Homo sapiens: one gene and its partners. The protein of the gene in region 7 purifies or fractionates together with the protein of the main gene of each other region. This does not show direct contact. Each region holds a gene or a part of one and is shown on either strand. Other genes may lie near its edges. The genes, in order: MAP4, SLK, DHX29, DYNC1I2, SMS, GNS and GSPT1.

Evidence for each region.
Region 1: the proteins of GSPT1 (region 7) and MAP4 fractionate together in Homo sapiens (co-fractionation; one large-scale study listed by BioGRID). This does not show direct contact.
Region 2: the proteins of GSPT1 (region 7) and SLK fractionate together in Homo sapiens (co-fractionation; one large-scale study listed by BioGRID). This does not show direct contact.
Region 3: the proteins of GSPT1 (region 7) and DHX29 purify together in Homo sapiens (affinity purification with mass spectrometry; one large-scale study listed by BioGRID and IntAct). This does not show direct contact.
Region 4: the proteins of GSPT1 (region 7) and DYNC1I2 fractionate together in Homo sapiens (co-fractionation; one large-scale study listed by BioGRID). This does not show direct contact.
Region 5: the proteins of GSPT1 (region 7) and SMS fractionate together in Homo sapiens (co-fractionation; one large-scale study listed by BioGRID). This does not show direct contact.
Region 6: the proteins of GSPT1 (region 7) and GNS fractionate together in Homo sapiens (co-fractionation; one large-scale study listed by BioGRID). This does not show direct contact.

The regions. Positions count from the first base shown.
Region 1 is NC_000003.12:48,006,417-48,009,916, forward strand, and holds part of MAP4 (microtubule-associated protein 4), read right to left. Parts: intron 1-3,500. UniProt on the Homo sapiens protein: Non-neuronal microtubule-associated protein. Promotes microtubule assembly.
Region 2 is NC_000010.11:104,026,140-104,029,733, reverse strand, and holds the end of SLK (STE20-like serine/threonine-protein kinase), read right to left. Parts: 3' UTR 501-3,594; downstream 1-500. UniProt on the Homo sapiens protein: Mediates apoptosis and actin stress fiber dissolution.
Region 3 is NC_000005.10:55,259,195-55,262,694, forward strand, and holds part of DHX29 (ATP-dependent RNA helicase DHX29), read right to left. Parts: coding exon 3,436-3,500; exon of another isoform or gene 3,356-3,435; intron 2,306-3,355; coding exon 2,174-2,305; intron 751-2,173; coding exon 654-750; intron 1-653. UniProt on the Homo sapiens protein: ATP-binding RNA helicase involved in translation initiation. Part of the 43S pre-initiation complex that is required for efficient initiation on mRNAs of higher eukaryotes with structured 5'-UTRs by promoting efficient NTPase-dependent 48S complex formation.
Region 4 is NC_000002.12:171,686,152-171,690,268, reverse strand, and holds the start of DYNC1I2 (cytoplasmic dynein 1 intermediate chain 2), read right to left. Parts: upstream 2,801-4,117; 5' UTR 2,642-2,800; intron 2,515-2,641; exon of another isoform or gene 2,396-2,514; intron 123-2,395; 5' UTR 114-122; coding exon 6-113; intron 1-5. UniProt on the Homo sapiens protein: Acts as one of several non-catalytic accessory components of the cytoplasmic dynein 1 complex that are thought to be involved in linking dynein to cargos and to adapter proteins that regulate dynein function.
Region 5 is NC_000023.11:21,971,709-21,975,208, forward strand, and holds part of SMS (spermine synthase), read left to right. Parts: intron 1-188; coding exon 189-282; intron 283-798; coding exon 799-863; intron 864-3,500. UniProt on the Homo sapiens protein: Catalyzes the production of spermine from spermidine and decarboxylated S-adenosylmethionine (dcSAM).
Region 6 is NC_000012.12:64,714,407-64,717,906, forward strand, and holds part of GNS (N-acetylglucosamine-6-sulfatase precursor), read right to left. Parts: intron 2,414-3,500; coding exon 2,335-2,413; 3' UTR 1-2,334. UniProt on the Homo sapiens protein: Hydrolyzes 6-sulfate groups in N-acetyl-d-glucosaminide units of heparin sulfate and keratan sulfate.
Region 7 is NC_000016.10:11,867,628-11,870,956, reverse strand, and holds the end of GSPT1 (eukaryotic peptide chain release factor GTP-binding subunit ERF3A), read left to right. Parts: 3' UTR 1-2,829; downstream 2,830-3,329. UniProt on the Homo sapiens protein: GTPase component of the eRF1-eRF3-GTP ternary complex, a ternary complex that mediates translation termination in response to the termination codons UAA, UAG and UGA.

The DNA of each region.
Region 1 (3,500 bases), on a different chromosome or scaffold from region 7:
AAGTCAGGTAATTAATGAAGTTTTAGCTTAGGTCTGACTTACAGTGGGCCCAGTGGGTCCCTGGACTCATCCTGTGGTCATTACCCCAGTGCCAGAATGCATAATTGGCATAGACATACTTAGCAGCTGGCAAAACCCCCACACTGGCTCCCTGACTGCTAGGTTGAGGGCTATCATGGTGGGAAAGGCCAAATAGAAGCCCTTAGAGTTGCCTCTACCTAAAAAAATAGTAAATCAAAAACAATATCACATCCCTGGAAGGTATGCAGAGATCAGTGCCACCATCAAGGACTTGAAAGATGCAGAAGTGGTGATTCCCACCACATCCCCATTAACTCTCTCATTTGGCCTGTGCAGAAGACAGATGGATCCTGGAGAATGATAGTGGATTATCATAAGCTTAACCAAGTGGTGACTCCAATTGCTGCTGCTGTTACCAGATGTGGTTTCATTGCTTGAGCAAATTAACACATCTCCTGGTACCTGCTATGCAGCCACTGACTCTGCAAATGCCTTTTTCTCTATTCCTGTCCATAAGGCCCATCAGAAGCAATCTGCCTTCAGCTGGCAAGGCCAGCAATATACCTTTACTGTCCTACCTCAGGGGTATATCAACTCTCCGGCTTTGTGTCATAATCTTATTTGGAGAGATCTTGATCGCTTTTCGCTTCCGCAAGATATCACACTGGTCCATTACATTGATGACATTATGCTGACTGGATCCAGTGATCAAGAAATAGCAAACACACTGGACTTATTGGTGTGACATTTGCATGCCAGAGGATGAGAAATAAATCCGACTAAAATTCAGGGACCTTCTGTCTCAGTAAAATTTCTAGGGATCTAGTGTTGTGGGACCTGTTGAGATATTCCCTTTAAGTTAAAGGATAAGTTGTTGTGTTTGGTCTCTCCCACAACCAAGAAAGAGGCACAATGCCTAGTGGGCATATTTGGATTTTGGAAGCAACACGTTCCTCATTTGGGTGTATTACTCCGGCCCATTTACTGAGTGACCTGAAAGGCTGCCAGTTTTGAGTGGGGTCCAGAACAGGAGAAGGCTCTGCAACAGGTCCAGGCTGCTGTGCAAGCTGCTCTGCCACCTGGGCCATATGACCCAGCAGATCCAATGGTGCTTAATGTGTCAGTGGCAGATGGGGATGTTGTTTGGAGTCTTTGGCAGGCTCCCATAGGTGAATCGCAATGGAGACTTCTAGGATTTTGGAGCAAGGCCCTGCCATCTTCTACAGATAACTACTCTCCTTTTTTTTTTTTTTTGAGACGCAGTGTCACTCTGTTGCCAAACTGGAGTGCAGTGGTGCGATCTCGGCTCAATGCAACCTCCACCTCCCAGGTTCAAGCGATTCTCCTGCCTCAGCCTCCCAAGTAGCTGGGAATACAGGTGCGTGCCACCACATCCAGCTAATTTTTGTATTTTTAGTAAAGATGGGGTTTCACCATGTTGGCCAGGATGGTCTCGATCTCTTGACCTTGTGATCCGCCCACCTCAGCCTCCCAAAGTGCTGATTACAGCTAACTACTCTCCTTTTGAGAGTCAGCTCTTGGCCTGTTACTGGGCTTTAGTGGAAATTGAATGTTTGACTATGGGTCATCAAGTCACCATGCGACCTGAACTGCCCTGCCTATCATGAGCTGGGTGCTTTCAGACCCATCTAGCCATACAGTGGATTGTGCACAGCAGCATTCCATCATCAAATGGAAGTGGTATATACGTGATCGGGCTCAAGCACGTCCTGAAGGCACAAGTAAATTACATGAGGAAGTGGCTCAAATGCCCATGGCCTCCACTCCTGCCACCCTGCCTTCTCTCTCCCAGCCTGCACTGATGGCCTCATGGGGAGTTCCCTATGATCAGCTGACAGAGGAAAAGAAGATTAGGGCCTGCTTCACAGACGGTTCTGCATCATATGCAGACAACACCCGAAAGTGGAGAGCTGCAGCACTACAACCCCTTTCTAGGACATCCCTGAAGGACAACAATGAAGGGAAATCTTCCCAGTGGGCAGAACTTCGAGCAGTGCACCTGGTTGTGCACTTTGAATGGAAGGAGAAATGGCCAGATGTGTGATTATATACTCATTCATGGGCTGTAGCCAATGGTTTGGCTGGTCAGGGACTTGGAAGGAGCATGATTGGAAACTTGGTGACAAATTTGGGGAAGAGGTATGTGGATGGACCTCTCTGAGTGGTCAAAGACAAGATATTTGTATCCCATGTGAGTGCTCACCAACAAGTGACCTCAGCGGAGGAGGGGTTTAATAATCTAGTGGATAGGATGACCCATTTTGTGGACACCACTCAGCCTCTTTCCCCTGCCATCGCCCATGGCCAACAAAGTGGCCATGGTGGCAGGGATGGAAGTAATGCTTGGGCTCAGCAACATGGACTTCCACTCACCAAGGCTGACCTGGCTACGGCCACTGCTGAGTGCCTAATTTGCCAGCAGCAGAGACCGACACCAAGCCCTCAGTATGTCACCATTCCTTGGGTGATCAGCCAGCTACCTGGTGGCGGATTGATTATATTGGACCTCTTCCATCATGGAAAGGGCAGAGGATTGTCCTCACTCAAATAGACACTTACTCTGGATATGGGTTCGCCTATCCTGTATGCAATGCTTCTACCAAGACTACCATTTGTGGAATGTTTTTTTGGTTTGTTGTTGTTGTTGTTGTTGTTGTTTTGAGAAGGGGTCTCACTCTGTTGCCCAGGCTGGAGTGCAGTGGCACAATCTTGGCTCATTGCAACATCCGCCTCCCGGGTTCAAGTGATTCTCCTGCCTCCGCCTCCCAAGTAGCTAGGATTACAGGCACCCGCCACCACACCCAGCTAATTTTTGTATTTTCAGTAGAGACAGGGTTTCACCATGTTGGCCAGGCTGGTCTTGAACTCCTGACTTCAAGTGATCTGCCTGCCTCGGCCTCCCAAAGTGCTGGGATTACAGGCGTGAGCCACCGCACCCAGCTGACTCATGGAATGCCTTATCCACCATCATGGTATGCCACGCAGCATTGCCTCTGACCAAGGCACTCACTTTACAGCTAAAGAAGTGCGGCAGTAGGCTCATGCTCATGGAATTCACTGGTCTTACCATGCTCTCCATCATCCTAAAGCAGCTGGATTGACAGAACAGTGGAATGGCCTATTGAAGTCACAATTACAACGCCAACTAGGTGACAATACTTTGCAGAACTGTGGGAAAGTCCTCCAGAAGGCCGTGTATCCTCTGAATCAGCGTCCAATATAAGGTACTGTTTCTCCCATAGCCAGGATTCACAGGTCCAGGAATCGAGGGGTGGAACTGGAAGTGGCACCACTCACCATCACCCCTAGTGATCCACTAGCAAAATTTTTGCTTCCTCTCCTGCAACATTATGTTCTGCTGGCCTAGAGGTCTTAATTCCAGAGGGAAGAATGCTGCCACCAGGAGACACAACAATGATTCCATTAAACTGGAAGTTAAGATTGTCACCTGGACACTT
Region 2 (3,594 bases), on a different chromosome or scaffold from region 7:
ATAGTGCACAACGCTCCCAGATTAGAAAATGACACTCCATGCCTCCCTCCAGCTGGACACGTGCCGAGTGATGCTGCCTAGCGTCTACTGAATCTTGCATGAACGTTATCAATGACGAAGAGACTATTTTTGCAGAAGTGAGGTCATATGATTTGTGAAATGCTTGGTGAGAAAAATCATCCATCCCAAGAGGAAAAGAAATTAAAAACATACACATATATACATAGGCTGATAGAAATATTTTAAGCACCTCCCAAAGGAGGGGTTTGCATTCTGAAAGACAACCCCCAGCAAGTTATCACTAAAAACTACATTTGAGTGTGTGTGTGTTTGCGTGTATGCTGTGGACTACACACAGCTAGGAATACTAACTCTGGAAGGGTCAGAAGACCTGCGGGGACTGCAAGTTTTACAATATAACTAGGACCAACAACTGCAAAGTGTTCTCAGGCAGGACACTCCAGTTTCAAAGATTCTCAATAAAAGACTGCTTCCCAAAATTGATTAAGAAATAACTTTATTTTTCATGTGTCAATCCCATGATTGAAAAGACATGTTGCTCTCAAGTAGATAAGAGGCATAATCTTAAACAAAATTCTTTCTGAAAATTTAGCTTATGAACTCATTACACTGCAAACCAGAGAAGGAGCACAAAAAGCTGCAGCCCACATTGAAACCTGGCAAACACTCTCCGCCAAAATTAGTAGCAGGAATGTTAAAGCTTTATCAAAAACATGTCAGCAACGGAATAGCAACAATACAGCCATTAACTGTTGTGCCTTCAACTTAAGAAAAGCATTTAAAGAATCACCCCATTTCTTATAAAAATCATTTCTCAGAAAAGAATTGTTAATCAAAAGACTATTAGAACTGGAACTCTCTTCTTTCACTTCAGTTCTAGATTTTCTTTAATCAACAATATCTCTAGTTAATACTTGGACAGAATTTGGCTTCTCAGAAGAGTCTTTGTCATTTAAGCACAGTGTGGAATGGGAAAAAGTGTATAGTTACAAGGAAACTAGAAGAGTACAAAAAAATAGTCACTTCTGAAACTCGCTGATGCTCAAGAAATCAGAGACCCTTCATTAAGGTGGGTCTCATATGCCTGAGAGCTTTGTGCTTGAGGAAGTATGACTTAGAGGTAGCTCTGGTTCTGGTAATTTATATTTAATTATAATTTGCTGTATCCTGTCACAAGAGAGTTCTAATATTTTCAGCAAAGTAAAAGCATTCAACATTTTTTCCTTACCCACCCTATAGCTTCCCCATAGAAAAAGATAAGAAAAAGCTTAATGTGACTCCACATAGAATAGCAGCTAATTCAGCAATTCGCACTGTATGGTTGTTGACAGGACTAGGAAAGGCAGCCTAGTGCCCCAAGCTGTAGGAGCTGGATCTGCAGAAGTGTGCAGGTCTGCTGTGTTCACAGCACTCAGGGAAAGAGGGGAGGAGGTGGCTGATGAGGGTGCACGTTCGGAGAAGTCTGTATGTGTTTCATGGCATATTCTGCCACAGCAACAAAACAACCAAATCAGCAGTAGATTTGACTGTACCCTTCGATTTCAAAGAAGTCTGCGCCCCTCGCCCACTCGCCACCTACACTTCATGCAGGAAAGATAGATCACTATCATCTATTTGAATACAGGGCCTCAGAAGAGGTGGGCTGGTATGGGTACAAACAGCGTATTTTATAACAAAACACTTTTTGAAAAGATTTATATAACTTTAAGTATTAAAATGAATGCTTTACCTCTACATATGTATCACTGTACAGTCTTGCACCCACACGATTATGGTCATATTTGAAAGCGAACTCAAGCACAAACACTGAATCCAAAAGGCAGTTTTAAGGGAGATCCAACCTTACCCACAGCGCCAACCATTCCACTCTGAGCCTCTCTCCTTGAGTCAATAATCTGAATGTCAAGTTGAAAGGAACAGAAAGAATCAAATATTCAGACCAAATTAATCAGGCACCACACACTATTTAGCGCACAGGGTATCAATTAAATGATACTAGAAAAAAAATGTCTACTGCCTGAGGTATTCATTTTTTAAAAGTCAATAAACTGAAAATTTCAAAGGAGAAAGTGGTATGAAGACGTTCCTTCCCAATCCCTCTTCAAATAAATCATTAAATACACTGGGCAACATTATACTGTCATTTTTATCATAACAATATAAACAATTTTTATCATCATCCTGAATATTACTTTATAAAGATATATATTTTAAAAGGCTTTCAAAACATTTTTCAACCCAGCATTTGAGAATAAAGCATTAAGAGTTTTGTATACAGTAACACATTCATGTGATAAGTGTATGAATTTACAACCATACATAATATGTATATATGTATATATATTTATATAAAAAACAAACTTGGCCAGAAGTTAAGGCTACCTACGAAGTTGTCCAAGTAAATTATGCTTGTCAAAACAATTATAAAATTCAAATCACACATGCATTTTTAAATCATCTAAATCACTGACAAACAAGGTTCAGCATCCAAAGTTTTCAAATTAACTGCAAGAAAGTGCTACAGACATTTACATTTTCTAAATATGAATCAGTGTTCCCACAAAGTTACATTTAAATTTTTCACCAGCCTCAAAAGTAATATAACTGAAAACAAACTTTCACAATTTGGTACCTAGCACTCTTAAGAGAGAATAGGTTGAAAATGGCAGGCAGCAAGCATCATTCACAAATGTGCTGTCTCAGACAGCAAAGTACAGTTTATAATACTGTCTGACCTGACACGTGGTTGAAATTCTAAGCCTCATAAGGGACTAGGAGTGAACATTTCATTAATAATTACACACACCAGCAACCACATGATAAAGGCTTCAGGCTTTTCCCACTCAAATCAAAGTGAATGATTTAAACATGGAACAAAATAAAACCAAGACATAAGTAGCCTCATTTCAAAATAAGGAAAAGTAATTCCTGACGTGCCTAAATATTTAATTTAAACTTTTAAAAAAGTATTCTGAACTAATGCCTCTTTTAAGATTAATTTCTGAAGATATATTTATAAATATAACTCACAGCCTGCAGGCCTCTGACAGAGTTTTAAACAGAATTAGCTAAGATGGAGAGAAATCATTTAACCAGCTCAGGTATTATTTTAGAAAATAAACACAGATAGCTAAACCTATATTGCTTAAATTTCATGAGTTTTACATTTCCAGTTTGCAATCTAAAAGCTACCTCTTTTTTTCATCTTTCCAAACTTTGTACATGTATTTTAGGATGAAAATTTCTATCAAACGGTAAGAGAAGCAAAAATTCCAAAACAACCATGTTTTTAATTCTAAAGATGTTTTTGTCCCTGTTGATCAAAAAGAAAATCCTACTTACGACTTGACTGAAATTTAGTGTTTTAGGCACTATCTTAAGAAAATTAGCACCCTCAATTATTAGCTCATGCCAAAAGAGGTAATTCGTTTTGACAAATCACTGAAATAATTTTTCTCTTTTAAAAGAGGTTGTTCCTATTTAAAGAAAAAAATATATTCATTTACTGAGTCAACAGCATATTTGAGCAAATCATAGCTTTTTTATGAGAGCTGATCCACCAAAAGAAAATTA
Region 3 (3,500 bases), on a different chromosome or scaffold from region 7:
AATAAGTAACAAAGTTTACTATGCTCAGTTTTATTAACCTTTTTTTCTATGAAATGGCTAGAAGTTTAGAAATGAAGTTTAAAAGAGACAGGAGTAAACTAAACCTTAAGAGGATAATTAGGCTGTGAATAATCACTAATTGAGTTTGATGGAATTCAGCATAAAGTAGATGGGATTTTTTACGACTTCAGTGTGCTTTAGTATACTCCAATGTTACAAAAAAAAATTTCTAGAATATTTCAGATTTTCTCTTACAAAGTTTCTTTTTTTCTTTTTTGAGATGGAGTTTCGCTCTTGTCGCCCAGGCTGGAGTGCAATCATGTGATCTTGGCGCTCACTGCAACCTACGCCTCTCAGGTTCAAGTGATTCTTGTGCCTCAGACTCCCGAGTAGCTGGGATTACAGGTGCCCGCCACCATGCCCAGCTAATTTTGTATTTTTAGTAGAGACAGGGTTTCACCATGTTGGCCAGGCTGGTCTCGAACTCCTGACCTCAGGTGATCTGCCTACCTTGGCCTCCCAGAAGTGCTGGGATTATGGGCGTGAGCCACCGTGCCTGGCCTCTTAGAAAGTTTTTCCACACATTAATACATAGGTATGTGTACACATACACATATGTGTATATGGTCTTTCACTTATAAGCAAACACTTACTTTCAAGGGACATCTTTGGATTTTCAAGCTTTTTTCTTAAAACTGAATCAATGAGAACTCTCAGCTGCTTGAAAATGACAGCTATCTTTACAGGGGCCTGTTAAGAGGAGTTGAAAAAATGGACAAAGTCAATCCAGGGCAGTGTGAATGTGTTTAAGTAAATCAAGGCAAGCCTATATTACAATCTGCCTTAGCACATCTTGCTTTTAATGGAAAACACAATGGGAAAAATACAAATTATTTCTGCTAGCTAGGCATGCAAACCTGTCAATTTCCTTATTAAATCTGGTAACTCTTCCCAAAATAAGGCAACTATTACTCCAATAATTGTTTTCTTCTCTATTTATATCAACTCTGTGGAAGTTAAGACTACAGTTTTGGGGAGGGAAATTTTTTTTTTTTGAGATGGAGTCTCTCTCTGTTGCCCAGGCTGGAGTGCAGTGGCGCAATCTTGCCTCACTGCAACCTTCGCCTCCCAGGTTCAAGCGATTCTCCTGCCTCAGCCTCCGGAGTAGCTGGGATTACAGGTGCCTGCCACCATGCCTGGCTAATTTTTTGTATTTTCAGTAGAGACAGGGTTTCACCATGTTGGTCAGGCTGGTCTCGAACTCCTGACCTCATGATCCACCTGCCTCGGCCTCCCAAAGTGCTGGGATTACAGGCATGAGCCATGGCACCCGGCTTTATTGAGATATAAAAATTACCATAAAAATTCACTCATTTTCACTAATTTCAATAGCTTTTAGTAAATTTATAGAATTGTGCAACCATCACAATCCAGTTATAAAACATTTCCACCACCCCAATTTCTTTGCACAAACTGCATATAATTGTAAAGCTGCACTTAAAATTCACCTCTCCAGTCCTAGACAAACAGCTATCATAGAATAACCTAACAATGTAATAGGTTTGCTTAGTTTAAGCTGGTCAATCTTGATGGGAGTACAGAGAAACAGATAAACTTATTGCCAGAAATAAGCATAGGTTGGTCTAATTTTTCCAGAGAAGAATTCAACAGTATGAATTATAAACTATAAATCTGTTTGGTCTTTTTTATTCCTTTTTATTCCACAATGTAGTGGAATGAGAATAAATTTGGGTATCAAATAGTCCTAGATTTGAATCTTGCTCTGTCAGTAACAATCCACGTAAATCCTGGGAAAATTATTTAATTTCTCACTGTGTTTGAGTGTCTCTATGTAAAAGAAACTATAGAAATTACCTAACAAGGTTGCTAGGATATTAATTTGGGAAAATCCACATAAAGTTAACTATTGAAGTACCCAACACATAGAAAGCTAGAATTGTTATTAATAATAAATAGAATTTGTAATAGCAATATAATTTGATTTCCAAATTTAACAGATTTAAAACCACAGAGGCAAGATAAAATAAGGAATTCTACTTAACTCATATTAAGAAGAAATTATGCAAACTCCAATAAAATTTAAAAAATGTACCTCAATGGTACTGGAAGTTGAAAATTTTTAATAATCAATAAAATCAGTTGTACTATGTACCTGAAAATAGATCCAGCCATCAATAGAAAGAAGACGTTCTCGGTGCTGAACTTCTATATCACCACCAAAAAGTAAAACTGGAAAAGGGGTTATTAGGGTAGTTTCTCTCAAATACACTCTGGCATACCTTATCTACATGGGAAAAAGGGGGGAAAATAACTTCAAAATATAAAAATAGAAGGAGGTCATTTATCTTTTTCAAGTAAGCATTTTTCTACAATTTGTTATTCTACATTTTAAGCTCAGAGTATTTGTAAAGCTACATTTTCATTTTCTTATGTGCATAATTTATCAATTTTATAATAATTACTATTACCACCTGTGCATTAATGCTATGAAAAGGCATTTTAAATATTATTGCTAAGGCTGAGTTATATACTTTGAACATAAAGGAAACTAGGTACAAGCAATTTTATATGCTAATGATATTAAATAATTAATGTTAAAATTATGATTTTCAGTTGCTGGTTTCTAAACCAACATTCAGCTATGGGCATCAATCAGTAATCTCTCGTTTTACATTTAAGTTTGATAAATGTTGAGAGTTATTCAAGCCAGTGCTTGAAATTACGGATCTTTGTTATTTTAAAGGTCAAGAAACAAAATGGAGGCACTTTTTGTAAAGGGAGAAGAAATATGTTTCAATTCTTTATGTTCCCTTTTCTTCTCATACTGCCTTAAAAAATGTGTGAATGAGACAGGTAACAAAAACCCAAAATATAAAGAGAAAATGCCATCTTAACCTTTACCATATGTTAAAAAATAAGAAAATGGAGTGGTCATGCAGCTCCAATTCAAAAGGTTGTTTTCATTGTAATCTATAAATATTTGCTATTAAATTATCTTAGGTGATACTTGACCGAAACTGTTGCAAATCATCCACAGTTCTACTACACCATCCAATATTCCCCTTATTTGGAAATAGCACATACAACCTGTCTTTTATTCCCTTCTGAGGCAGCACCTTTTAATGAAATACTAAGGGGATTGATACATTATTAACCAACATCAATTTGCTATTACTGTCTTTATTCCAAGTAGAAAAGATGATGGGCAGAGTAGAAACCTTACTATTTGTTTTTGAAGAGAAAATAAGCATTCTTTTGTTTGAGAAGCTATGTGCATCTTGATTTCAAATATTAACAAAAATGAATAGCTCAATTTGAGAACCAAATAAAATACCTGTTAGGGCATCCTAACTTGTTATGAATGACTTGCAGAATAATGCTCTGAATACTGGAATTTAGGAATGAGTACTTCACCTTCTCCTGGTATAAGAGCCATCCATGAGTTTGCAAATCTCGATTTACTGAGGATGGGTGTACTT
Region 4 (4,117 bases), on a different chromosome or scaffold from region 7:
CATACTTCTTTTTTTTTCCTTTCTTCTTCTTTTCTCTTCTTTTCCTCTCTGATTTGGGCCAGTCGCTGCTTCTTACGTTCCAACTCAGCCTTTAATTCACTTTTGTCTGACATGTTTGTGACCTTAGAAACATATAATCATTATGTTAGTAAAAGCAGCACAGTTGAAAAAACTAGTGTTCCAAGAAGAGAACTGTCCCGAAAGGCCATATAGTTCAATGCTATCTCAAAAAAGCACAAAAACCTTACTTTTAAAATAATGGGGCTGGGCAGTAGCTTACTTTGGGAGGCTAAAGTGGGAGAACTGCTTCAGGCCATGAGTTTGAGACCAGCCTGGGCAACAAAGCAAGACCCCATCTCTACAAAAAAAAAAAAAAAAAAAAAAAAGGCAAGAAAAATAAAAAATTAGGCGGCATGGTGGCATGTGCCTGTAGTCCCAACTACTTGGAAGGATTGCTGGAGCCCAGGAAGTCAAGGCTGCAGTGAGCCGTGATCATGCCACTGCACTCCAGCTTGGGCAACAGAGCGTCTCTAAAAAATAAACTTTTAAAAGATAAAATAAAGGAAGCATATATATTATTACTAAGACTTAAAAAATGTATAAACAAATATATATAATAAATATTACCTAGAGCTGAGCATAGTAGCTAGCCCATAGTAAGCACTTTAATGTTCGCATACACAAACTGAACACAATGTCTCAAAGTTTTTGATGACAATATATTAGGTACCCAAGATAAAGGTCAAAACTGGCTCTTAAAACAGAGGACATGGTTTGGCATTTAGAAGCTCTTAAGCTATATGACACAGATCAAAACTATTACCAATTCTATTGCATTCATAGAAACTTGATAAAAAACAATAGGTCAAACTGAACTTTCCTGTAAGTTCTAAAAGTGCTGTAGTAATACTAAAGCAAAACGCAGGAGTTACCATCATTAGCTATCAAATCATATGACTGTATTTCTCCACAATAACACCTTACGTATACCTCTGATGGCACTTTTAGTACAATTATTTGTGGACATACCTGAAATGTTCCCTATTAGATTGTAATGTACTTGAAATCAGGGACTGTTTTTTAGTTATTTTTGTTGCCTTCACAACATCCAGCAGAATGACCTTAACATTACAATTGACACTGGCTAATGAATAATGGATACGGTAGACACAATTACAATCTGAGCTTCAAAAACCAATTGCATAAACACTACTTCAGCTTGAGTTTTAGGAAGAAATAATGAATTAGGATTTTTTTTTTTTAAGTAGCCTAGCAGCTGAGCATAAGGCAGGAGCCAGGAACTCCTTACCTTCTCCACATGATTGACTTATTGCCTAATGATCAATCTCTTTCAATGTCTCTGTACAAGTGAAGTATTAAATGCTTTAGATCAAGAAAACTAGGAGAATAACCTCTGGAAAACTGTATTTCCAGAGGTTAGGGGAAATCTCTTAAAAAGCACAATTGTTAAATCTGAACAAAGGTAAGTCAGTCAAGAGGAGAAATTCACCTACTAAGAAGTGGATAAAGGAAATTTCAGCTACTAAACTCCATTAAGACTGGCAAGCGAATTGATAATTTTCAAGCATACGAAAAGGATGAAAAGTTGACATAGCAGACCTGAAATATATACACAATATCTTCCAAGATTTGTTTGAACAAACTAAAAGCAAGAGACCGTGTTTCTTATTCCACTCTTTCTACACCTCTAAACAGCTCCATACAAACGGCTGGTGAAGAGAACTTCCATACGTAACTGTATGCTACGCTAGGCACATTATATTTTGTTCAACGTCAACTGTAAAACAGATATACCAACACTAATTGATATTAAAATAAGCGCATTTTTAAAGCCCAACAACAAAGTCTTGACCAGCTGAACTACAGCTGACCAATCCTCTCATCCTCACAGAAGCCAGAGCCTTCCTCCATGACCGACATGTTCACGTTCTTAAAACTCAAGAGAAGAGAGTCTCTAGAGTTTTGTGCTAGAACCTCCGTGTTCGGGGGCTTTCCATCACACATAAGGTGAGGGGAGACACTATCAAGGCAAGTAGAGATGGCCTTAATTTGTAAAATGGGGCAAGGCGAAAACGAATCACTTTCTCCCCTGGGGTCACGGCCAAGAGGGCGCGGTCCACGGCAGGGCGTCCGGAAGAAGCCAGTGGGCGCCGGACAAGCCTCAAGGCTCCCCAGGCCGCCTCTGGAGGGTCGAGAAGGGAAAGGAGTGGACTCCTCTCGCCGGGCCGCAATGAGTCACCGCACCCAGGTCTCCCCGCCTTTCCTCCCCAAAGCTGGGCCGGGCGGGGATGTCAGCAGGAACTGCCAAGCCGCCCTTCGAGTTGCGACGTGGAACACAGGCAGGGAGGCCTTGAGGGAAGAACAGTCAACCCACCTGTCAGGTGACTGGATGGGGAAGAGTCCTCCCGCCTGCAACTTCCCGGTAACGTCCCTCGCCTAAGCCCCCAACACCAACTGTAGCCACCACCAGCTCCGCGGCTTTCCAAAGCACACAAAGAGGGATGGGCGGCGGCTGCTACGGCGAGAGCTTAGGGACAAATAGCCTCACCAGAACGAGGTCGCTCCCAGAAATAAAAGGTGGGGCCCTGCTGCGAGGAATTGTAGCCCCTCCGTGACTTACCTGTCGTAAAGCAGAAGCCGGTAGATAAAACAAAGAACCCAGTCAACCCAGGGGCCTTAAGTATTTCCGCTTTGCCAAAAACTGGAAAACTACGCCTAATATTCTCAGGCCAGGAATCCAACTTCCGCCCTCGCCTTACAAACTGACACGATCGAGAAGAACTACAAACCCCGGCAACAAGGAAAACCTGCGTGCGACGAGCAGTGCGTTCTGGGAATTGTGGTCGCTGGGCGTCGCAAGGTGTGCTGGGACATGTAGTGTGTCCCCTCCTTTAGATTTCCCACTCCAAGGCCTTCTTCCGTCGAGAAGCTTCTGTATAAAGTATTCTCGTCTGTTGATCCGTGCCCACAGTGTAGTATGTGTTATAGTGTAAGATCTTTGACCCAATATTGGCGGAATTTTAAGGTCTATTTTCCAGTGGTGAACCTGTGAATCACGCTGCTGCACATTTGGTGAAGACGTGAAGTAGACTGTTTAGGATGTAAAACATTATATATATATATGTACATACATATGTAAGTTTTAGGGAAAGAATGTCTTATATAGGCTTCATGTGGCATCTTAGGCAAAATCTAAATAAAAATATGTCAACTGACATAGCAAATAATTCTTTAGTATTTTGTTGCAGTGTGGTAGCATTTTGGTTTTCTCTCAAACAATTTTAGGAAATAAAGCATTTTGTATTATTGGACTCTCAAACCAAGCTAGAATGTTTTCCACAGTTAGATTTTTAACATACAAAGAAAACAAAAGTTACTGGAACATGAATTTACCTGCAATGTATACATTGACACACCTTTTTAAAGTTTAAATAATTTAAAGCATTATTTGGCAGGAGTTAAAGCTAACACCAAGGTAATATCTTTTCTATGTTCTAGAAAACTGATTGTTCTAGAAGTTCTAGATATTGCCCAAGTCTAGAATGAACCTTTATGATTCAAATTCCAAGTCCTTGGGCTTGTGGTCTTTTTCTTATCTTTCTCTGCCTTATCTGTGGTCTTTTGTGTAGAAAAAAATATTCTAAAAATAAATTTGAGAAAGAAAATCCTTGGCTTTCCACAGCTTTTCCCAATAACCTAACATTCAAAGAGCTTTATAGCTATGTTATTTTTTTACTTCTTTCCTAATAGTTTTCATGTATTAATTTGAAAAAAAATTATTATTGATTGCCTACCATGTGCCAGCAATGGTGATGGGTGTTGTGGTAACAGCTAAAATGGACCAGGCGCAGTGGCTCACACCTGTAATCCCAGCACTTTGGGAGGCCGAGGCAGGCAGATCACCTGAGCTCAGGACTTAGAGACCAGCCTGGGCAACATGGTGAAACCCCGTCTCTACAAAAAATAGAAAAATTAGCAGGGTGTGTGGCATGCGCCTGTAGTCCTAGCTAGTCACGAGGCTGAGGCAGGAGGATGGCTTGCGCCCAGGAGGCGGAGGTTATAGTGAGCTGAGATTACACAATTGCATTCCAGCCTG
Region 5 (3,500 bases), on a different chromosome or scaffold from region 7:
TCCACAAATGATTGGTAGTTTCTCCCCGCAAGACGCAGCCCTAGTAAGAAAGCAAAAAGCTTAACTGTATACTTTTGGGGAAATAAAGAGCAGTGGTCTTTTAATTGGGTGACATCTCTCTCTCTCTCTCTTTTTTTTTTAATGCCCCGATACAATTCTTAAGCTTAAAATTATATTTTCCTTTGTAGCTTTGCCAATTTGAGAATTTACCCACATGGATTGGTGTTGCTGGACCTTCAGAGTTATGATGGTGATGCGCAAGGCAAAGAAGAGATCGACAGTGTCGGTTTTTCACTTTCATTTACTCAGTGTTTAAGGATCATAGTATCTGCTTAGCTTAGTGTTAAAATAATGTTCTCTTCATTGCTTACTTTCCAGTTAATTTTAAACTTTCCTCCCTCCACATAAGTGATTTTAGAATAGAAGTAGTTGTTTAGTTGTTTTTAGGAACCTGGGTGTCAGCGTTCCCTTTTAACTGCCTTAGTATGAGTAATCTTATTTTCCACTGGAGGGAATAGAAAACCTTTAACCAGGATTTTATAGCTGCAGTACCCTTTAGCCTTCCTCTTCCGTGTTACTTTGTTGCTAACTTACGCTAAGGTTAGGTCAGCAACATGAAGGGATAGTTGGTATGGGAGAGTGGAATTGGGCCAGGCGTCTACAGGCTGCTAGAGGGTAGGAGGAGGGACAGGTCAATCTTGCACAGCTCTGTCAACATGGCCTCAGTCGTTGGGTCTGTAATTTAGTTCTTCCATGCAGCTTATTCTACAAGCCCATTGATTTTTCTTTTAATTGTAGATTTTGAACAAAGTAGAGGAAAGAATGAAAGAATTGAGTCAGGACAGTACTGGGCGGGTGAAACGGTAAGTCCACTCTTGAATGTCCTTTTATATTTAATCGATTGAAACAATCATAGTTGGCTGGGCGCGGTAGCTCACACCTGTAATCCCAGCAATTTAGGAGGCCGAGGCAGGCGGATCACTTGAAGTCAGGAGTTTGAGACCAGCCTGGCCAATGTGGCAAAACACCGTCTCTACTAAAAATACAAAAATTAGCTGGACGTGGTAGTGCATGCCTGTAATTCCAGCTACTTGAAAGGCTGACGCATGCGAATGGCCTGAACCGAGGAGGCAGGAAGCAGAGGTTGCAGTGAGCTGAGATCATCGCACCGCTGCACTCCTGCCTGGGTGACACAATGAGACTGTCTCAAAAAAAAAAAAAAAAAAAAAAAATTCAGAATGGCAGTGTGGTCCCCAGTAGTGTCTGCTTAAGATGTGGAAAAGATCAAACTCAGCACCTCCTTCTGGCAACATGGTGAACTGAACTACTGGGCCCCTCACACCAAAACAAGACAGTGTATGAACATTCATGTGCATGGATGCACACACACAAATGCTAGGTAAAATGAAACTAAGGCAGAAAGGGGATATGGACCAACTCCAAGGAGTTGGAACTGCCTAAAGTGGAGACCCAGGTAGAGCTGCCACCTCATCAAAGGGAGCTAGAAAACTCCTGACTTCAGTTCGAGACCAGCCTGACCAACATGGGTGAAACCCCGTCTCTACTAAAAATAGAAAAAGTAGCCAGGCGTGGTGGTACGTGCTTGTAATCCCAGCTTCTCAGGAGGCTGAGGCAGGAGAATAGCTTGAACCCGGGAAGCGGAGGTTGCAGTGAGCTGAGATCGCACCACTGCGCTCCATCCTGGGCAACAGAGTGAAACTCGCCTCAAAACAAAACAAAACAAATACCTGACTTCAACCTTTCCAGGAAAGAGAAAAGGTCACTTTTTCTCCTTCAGGCTCTAGGCCCCAGAGTGAAGTTAAGCAATTTTAAGAGACTTCCGACAGGGTGGGGTGATAAGAAAATTTGCCTCAAGGCGTTCAAAGAAGAAAACTTTCCAAGATACTAAGAATTGATAGGCCACCAACTTTAAGCTGCCATAGGCAGGTTATTTTCAAGTGATCATGAGGAAAATGAAGCTCTCCCTATCCAGTGGGATGGGCACTAGCCCCACATGGCTATTTAAAGTTAATTAAAATACACAATTCAGTTCCTTAGTCACAATAGCTAGTGGTTAGTGTCTGCCATGTGGGACAGTACAACTACGGAACATTTTCATCATCCAAATTTCTATCGGACACTGCCGAAGTGTTTGCCAGTGGTGTCAGATTTTAAAAGAATGCAATTCGGACATCGTGGGAAGGAACTAGTGTCTGGTACATCATGGGAATTAAGAAGTGCTTTGGATACACAGCATGCAAATGCAGGACAATTTACTCTTGCCCTGCCTTGGTGGATCCTCATCAGGCCTTAAGGCATAGAAGGCCTGTCCCTTGCTCATAAAATTAACCTCAGTTGCAGAGACCAACACAGAGGGACTTCCTCATTGCTGAGCAACGGAAATACAGGTTTCTCCAGTTCATGGCACTTTCCAGAAGAAGGAATCCTTATTGGCAAGTGTTAGGATGTTTAAGTACTTAATTACTCAGCATGCTAAGTTTGATCAGCCCACAAGAAAGCTCCAGAGCAGATGTAAGATAACTAGGTAATTGTTTAACCTTCTGTAGTTAAAGAGGAAAGCAGGAAACTGAAAGTGAAAAGAAGACGCCACAGTATAGAACTATTTTTTTGAGATCTGTTAGAGCACTCAGGCTCTTTTGGAGCACCCAAGCTCAGTTTAGGGTCCCCAGCCATGTCTCTTACCCTTCACCTTCCTTTAAAAACACATCCACACCCATATACCCATACCACTTTTTGGACATTTCATCTTTTCCTGTTGGCAGGGTTTTCCTTATCTGCACCCATTTGGAATGAACAGGTTCCCCACTGTCAGAAAGGGTCTTAACTTTATGATAATGAATTGGTCCACATCAAAATGTGGTCTGATTTTTATCAGTTGCCTCTAGGAGTGAGTAAACAGCATACATTTATGGGCTTCAGCATTCATGAGAAGTCTGGTTCTTTTCCTTTTTTGGTATAGGAGTTTTCTAAGAGTGGAGTTAAGCTTTAGATCTTCAAAATACCTTGCTTATGCTTGTCACAGTTTTTATTATCTTTTCATGAAATAAGGTTGACGACAGCTAGAAATTGGGTATACCTTGTTGTAAACCCTTTGTTACTGGCCTCAAAAGGACAAGGATTGCTATCCTTTTTTTTTTTTTTTTTTTTAAATCTGGAGAATAAAGATCAGAGGTTAAATGTTAGAGATTAAATCATTAACAAATAACCCAGTAACATTATCTGAAATTATTCCCCTTTGATAAGTTAAGTCTGAATTTTCGACTAAGAAGCTATGGGATGTACTTGAATTTATTTTTGTTTTCTACTTTCAAGTGAAAAAACAAGAAAACAAGGTCACATAAATTAACTTTGATTTTAAAAGGTTCTTGCAATTTACACAGTATACCTAAGGCCTGGGCTATAATCTACCTGAATTGGTGTAGTCCAGTTTCATTTTTCAGCAGTGAAGGTTGAAACGAGTTTGGTAGGGTGCTCTACAG
Region 6 (3,500 bases), on a different chromosome or scaffold from region 7:
TATGAAAACATCAGTGCATTGTGTAGTCTGTTACGCTATAAACTGAGGTCTCTTTATGAAAGATTATTTTAGCACAAATTCAGAATGAAGCCAGTCCAAGAAAAAAAGAATTGGAAGCTATTTGAAGGTTAGATAGGAAATATACCAAAAATAGAAGAGCGTAGAGAGGGCTGCACCACATCCTACCACGCAAGCACACCCACTGAACTGAGTAAGAGTGGCGTGGCTGAGGTGCCGTCAGCAGCTGACTATGTCACTCTTATGAGTTCTGCTCAGGAACAAGCATAAAACTGAATAATATGACATCACAGTCCAAGACCTGGTAAGAGTTGGTTTCTTTTTATTTGGAAATAACTATGGTCAACTTTCATTAATGTGGAAGTTGACTGATAATGTTAAGAGTCAAAGTGAAAAAGAAAGCCGATACCCATATTCAACAGTGCTTTCAGTTACAACATTTTTTGAATTTCCTTCTCTAAAACATTCACAGCAGAGGTGTCCATTTCACTTGCCTGTTTCACCTCTAGATACCACCACAGTTGCTGGGGTCATGTGAGGTAAAGGAATATATCCAATTGACTGTTAGCCCAACATGACTATCTGCAATTCTGATAGAAAAGCTACTTTCAGCCATGTCTTACAAAGTGCTTAAAGCTGGACAGAAGACTTTAAATAAAGCTAAAATCGCTTATTGCCTGAGTTGAACAAGTTACAAACCACAGCTCTTCCTCCTCCCCTGCTGTCTCACCACCAATTAGCCTTCTTGTGAGGACAACATTAGAAATGGAACTGGTTTTTGAGCCAAGAAACATAAAAATTTAGGTGTTCTTAGCCAAGCGTGGTGGCTCATGCCTGTAATCCCAGCACTCTGGGAGGCCGAGGTGGGTGGATCACAAGGTCAGGAGTTCAAGACCAGCCTGGCCAACATGGTGAAACTCTGTCTCTACTAAAAATACAAAAAATTAGCTGGGCGTGGTGGTGCGTGCCTATAATCCCAGCTACTCAGGAGGCGGAGGCAGGAGAATCGCTTGAACCCAGGAGGCGAAGGTTGCAGTGAGCTGAGATCATGCCATTGCACTCCAGCCTGGGTGACATAGTGAGACTCTGTCCCCACTTCTCAAAAATAAAAACATTTAGGTGTTCTCAACAGTGAAGAAACCTGAATAGATTTGATTTTGACAGGGGAATACTGATAATCATACAAGACTCCAAAACTCAGGAAGAACCCATCTAAAAGGGGAGAAGGTAGGGTAAAGTAGTTGATACTTTGCATCAACTGTAAGAAAATTTTCCACCTTAAAACAAATGAAGAGAATGACAGAAAAATGCAGATAGAGCCAATGACTTCATACATGGAACTTAAATTCAAGCTCCCTGCTGGACAGGCACTTCTTTCCTTTATCCCTGGTACAGCCCTTCCACTTGTCTGTTCAAGAGCCCTGTCTTCAGAAGGCCCTCGGAAGAGACAACCTTCACCAACTCTTGGCAGTTCTTCACTGCTGATGTTCCTAAGCCACTTCATTTTTCAGATCTCAGAGGGGAGTCTCAAGAGAAGGGACCTTGCCTTAATCCTTCCAGTGTTAACTGGCACTCCCTGTGGTTGGCAGCCACTGGAAAGTAGATGGCTATCACCTTCAAGAGCTACCTGGAATTGGCCTTTATCACAAGCTTACTGCTCTATTTCAGTGCAGCACCAGCCTAGAATTCACAAAAACATGAACAGAGCTTGGGTGACATGTTTTGAATTTGCAACCTTACCACACTGTGATGAACATCATAAAAAATGTATCTCTACTTATCAATCAACAATGGTACTTGTTCTTACTTGGATGATTCAGCTCTGATGGTTACTCTTCAAGCCATGTGATGTTAGTATTTTTGATAGTGAAGTGCTCAATCTGAAATGCTACACAGGTCCTTTGACTTTAGGTCAAGCTTACATATCAAAAGGTGTGTCTGTGTGTTTGTGTGTGTCCTAAAGTACTGCCATTTATCTGAATGGGTTTACAAATTCAGTCTTTAACCACAAGAGGAATAATCAAGAACTGTGGCCCCAGGATAAAAAGAATACAGTGAGAACAAAGACCTCAGGAGTGTCCTTGTCAGCTAAAGGAAGAGACCAGAGACAGCCACTCCTGACACATGGGCAGAGTTCACAGTTTAACACATTGCACGAGGAAGTCAGCTGACTGGGTTGCTTTTTCAAACAGGACTTAAAGCCAGCCCAGAAACTCTTCCAGGTGTGGTCTTGAAGACTAGCTACAGACACCTACTACAATCACTTCATCAGAAAGAGGCGTGCAGGGATCCATCTGCAGAGGCTGTGTGAGGTCGCTACAGAAGATGTTTGGAAAATCTTCGAGTCCTGACACTGCCGCGATTGCTGAACATGAGACGGGGGTCAAACCTGTATCTGGGGAGGAAAAACCAAATGTAACATTAGCTCTCACTAGCTTCTCACTCAGAATATTATTCAGTGGAAAGGATAGCAGGAAGGGGTGTAAAAGAAACAAATCACCAGAAGGGACTCTAGTGAGAAAGTCTATGGTACAAAACATGAGCCCTCGACAGTTCCGAACATTTCTATCACCAGTCAGCACACACAAAGTCACACAGTGCAAGTCAAGAGGAGAAAAACAAGTAGGTTAGTCTTGAAAGGTGTCAGAAGGCAGCAAGATTTGAGATTTTTTTCTTTTGAGGGAGTAGGGGTGGATCAACTGTTACATTATTACAGTGCTTGTGTTCAAGTCACCCTGATTTTATTTAACAATGGCTCCAAACCACAAGAGTAGTGGTGCTGCCAATTCAGAAATGCCAAAGAGAAGCCATAAAGTGCTTCCTTTAAGTGAAAAAGTGAACGCTCTTGACTTAATAAGGAAAGAAAAAAATCATACAGCAAGACTGCTAAGACCTACAAGAGCCTCACCATAAACATGAGTCATTTTTGGTGGGGGCGCTGGCAGGGGGACAGAGTCAGTCTGTCGCCCAGGCTGGAGTGCAGTGGCACAATTTCAGCTCACTGCAACCTCCACCTCTCCGGCTCAAGTGATTCTCCTGTCTTAAGCCTCCAGAGTAGCTGGGAACACTGGCGTGCGCCACCACACCTGGCTAATTTTTTTTTTTTTTTTTTTTTTTTGTAGAGACAAGAGTTTCACCATGTTGCCCAGGCTGGTCTAGAACTCCTGGGCTCATGTGATCTGCCCGCCTTGGTCTCCCGAAGTGCTGGGATTACAAATGTGAGCCACCGCGCCCAGCCAGGAATGAATCTTCTATCTGTGAAATCATGAAGAAGGAAAAACGAATTCTAGTTTTGCTGCCACACCTTAAACTGCAAAAGTTAGGGCCACAGTGCATGACAAAAGCTTAGTTAAGATGGAAAAGGCATAAAATTTGTGGGTAGAAGACATGAACAGAAACATCTTCCAACTGATGGCAACTGGGCCTGGCACTATCCTTGGGGCTTCACGCATCCACTGTGGGTTCTGGAATAGATCCTCTGT
Region 7 (3,329 bases):
ACATTTTTAAAAAATAAGTTATGTTTGCTACTAAAACATTTACACTGTTAGACTATTATGTGCATGTTGCCAAGACTCTTAAGTAACTTGGATATCAACTGTGAAGGGCCTACCTCTAAAAAGTAACAGGTCATACAAATACAAATGTAACTGTAAAAATTCCACTGGATTCTTGCATATTTGCAAGATTAGATTATTCAAAAGAAATTTCAGTGCTAAAATTAACCAGCAACATAAGTTCTATGGGCTTTGAAAATTGTTCTCATCTTTTTAAAGTTGATGCATTTTCAATCCTGCTTACACAGGCTGTTCATTTGGATAAGTAAATAAAATGTCTAAGGTGAACTTGGCATTATGTGGAGATGTTGGACCGTTATAGAGCAATACAAATTCCTATGCTGTCATTCTGTTTTCTGCAAATGCAAACGTGCTTATATGGTCAACAGTGCAAAAATAGGGTAGTTGGCTGCATATTTAGGGTATTACCTAAGCATTTGTTCTCTAACGTTGCTCTACTAGAATGATTTTTTTCTTGCATCTTTTCACATTAATGATGTTCTTTATATAACTTTCATGCGATTATTTAGTTTTTTAAATTAATAAAGTGAATTTAAGAAATATTGAAATAAACATCTAAGTAATTGCCATTTTAAACCCTTGTTTCTTACTGTGGGAGAGGGGGAAATACAGCACTCATTTCTTGTTTTTAATTTGCAGAAGTAAGTGAAAATCTATGTAAAATCAAACCAAAAGAGTTGGACTGAGTGTGTATTGTCTTGAGATTAAGTGACAAATAGTAAAGTGTTACTGAGTAATTAAGCCCATGTATTTTTTTTTTGTGAGTTGAAAATCTTTGAAATATGTGATAACCGAATGTCAAAAGTTCCTAAACTCTAACAGTGCAGGTTGTTCACTGTAACGAGGTAACTCATATTTGCTGGTTACATAAACTACAAGTACTGCTCTCACAATATGGGACTTTGAACTGTGATGTAGTTCAACAGTTGCCGGCATCCTCTCAGCTGATACGCTGCGAATATTTTGGGTTAGACTTGCAGCCAGATGCAGTTTTGCAACCCAAGAAAAAAGTTGAACCTATGATCAAAAACTGCTCCCAAGATGAACCTGGAAAAAAATCAGCTAAGCTCCCTTGGCGATCTGCAGGAACACTAGTAATGACTGGAATTACTCCGTGATCTTTGATGACTATTACACATAACAGCACTCTAGCACCTTTTCTTACTGGCATGGACTTCCTCATGGACTGCTACTTCATGGATGATAGCTTCATTGCTTTGGGTAGGGATTTAAGGTAGTCAAGGGGAAAATACGCAGTTTTATTACAGGTCTTAACATCAGGCAACTTTCAACTTTAAAACCCTTTGTGAAAAATGTGGTTATAGCACTATAGCTCTGATTTTAGGATGGTTAAATGTTATATTCATTGTTGGCTTACCTTATCAAACTGTGCCATTAATCCTTTCACAGACATAGGTAAGGAAGAGAACAACCAGTGGATTCAGGGGACAATTATCTATCTCCAAATAATAGGCTTTTATTTCTTGCAGCTAACTTTTTCAGTGATTCTAGCAGATGCCATCTAGTACATCCTTGATCTTGTTTCTTTCGTGAGAGATCTCGCCATGGCAGCATCTTGTTAAGTAAGTGTAATTGCACATGCACAAAAGACTTAACTAGCTTTACATTTAGCAGTCAGTTGGTTAGATTAGGTTTCATAGTAAATGAATAGGAATAGAAAGAATAGGAAGTGTTTTTATTTTCCAGTAGTAATTCCGTGGATTCCATTTGACCCAGTTTACTATCAGTTCAGTTCAGGTAGATTTGGTTCAACTTTTGGTGGTTTTTGGCTCTAGGATATTCTTGACTTTAATATCCTAGAACTTACTGAGTCTTCCCTTCAATAAATACACTTCTCACATACCTCTAATCCTATGCTTCCTTGAAACAATAATGCTAGCTGAGTTGTTTACTAAGGATTATTATAAGGGCCTGAAGGTGTGGGAGTGGAGATTAATTAAAACCTTTATGTTCTCCAATATAAGGGAAAAGCAGGTTGGTACTACTTCTGATTAGGCAGAAAACACCAGGATTCCTTAAGTGATCCTTGAAATGGTTATTGTTTTCTGCCTTGTCACATTTGCCACTGTGCCCTTTAAAACGATGTGGAAACCTCAGGTTTGTGGACAGCACAGGTGGAATGACATCTTGTGCTTCCTGAGGCTCCCCTCTACCAGGCACATTAGCTTAGTGCTTCAGATGTCAGCCCAAGTCCTTGTTACCTCCTTTTCCTGCTGCCCAGGGAAGAGTGTGTGTGCTGGAGCTGGAGCGCTTGCACTCTTCAGGTGACTATTCTCACCTCCATTTCCTCCACATGCATTAGGTGAAACTGAGGTCTAAGCCTCCTGCAAGGTCTACATTTTAAGGACTCACACATCAGGCTCTCAGAAATGTACACAGGTATTAGTTCTGTTTGTTCTAAAGGAAATGTGGGTATCTCTCAGGCCAGGACTTAGTGACTAGTTTTCGCTAGACAGCAGGTTAATACCTAGATCTCATTTAAAAAAAAAAAAAAAAAACAGGATTAAAGGGAACTGATCAGGTTTGTTGAGTTTTTTAGCCTAATTCCAAAGCATGGAAGAGTGCTCTAGGTAGGAAAGAAAGCTTTTTCTTACGATTTGTAGCTACCTACTGTGCCTGACTTGGTGCCTGTGTGAGGATTAAGCCCTTAGTCTGCTCTTGCAATTATTCAAATGACAAATTAAATTTGCTTTTGTAATAACAATAAAAGTTGTCATCTTCCCTTTTGAAGGATTTGTCGTTTGTAATTACCTGTGTTGTAACAAGCAAAAACCATGCCCTTTTTTGTACAATCCTTTTATTTTTGTATCAGGTACTGGAACCATCTACCAAAAGGTTTGTTGGATGGATCTAATAAGCTCTGTCACATAAGGGATTCACAAACGTCATCTGCTTGCATATGGCATGCAAGTCTTTTGTATAATGTATACGACAACCTTAGGAAACAAAAATAAGAACCCTATAGGAAGTTAGGGATGCTGAATAATAAATAACTAGATCACAGTTATGTGGTTTTATGTGAACAGTAGAGTTGGGGGAAACGTCAATTATTATTAGAACTATGAACCTCTACATTCAGGATTTTTAATAAAGATCAAGAGACCAAATAGTGCTTGCCCTTTTCATTCAATGTGCAAGGGCAAGAAGAAGTTAATGATAAAGGTAACATACACAGTGGCTACTTGAATGACAGCAGTTCATTCCTGTGTACTAAGTTCCTGTTTGAACTG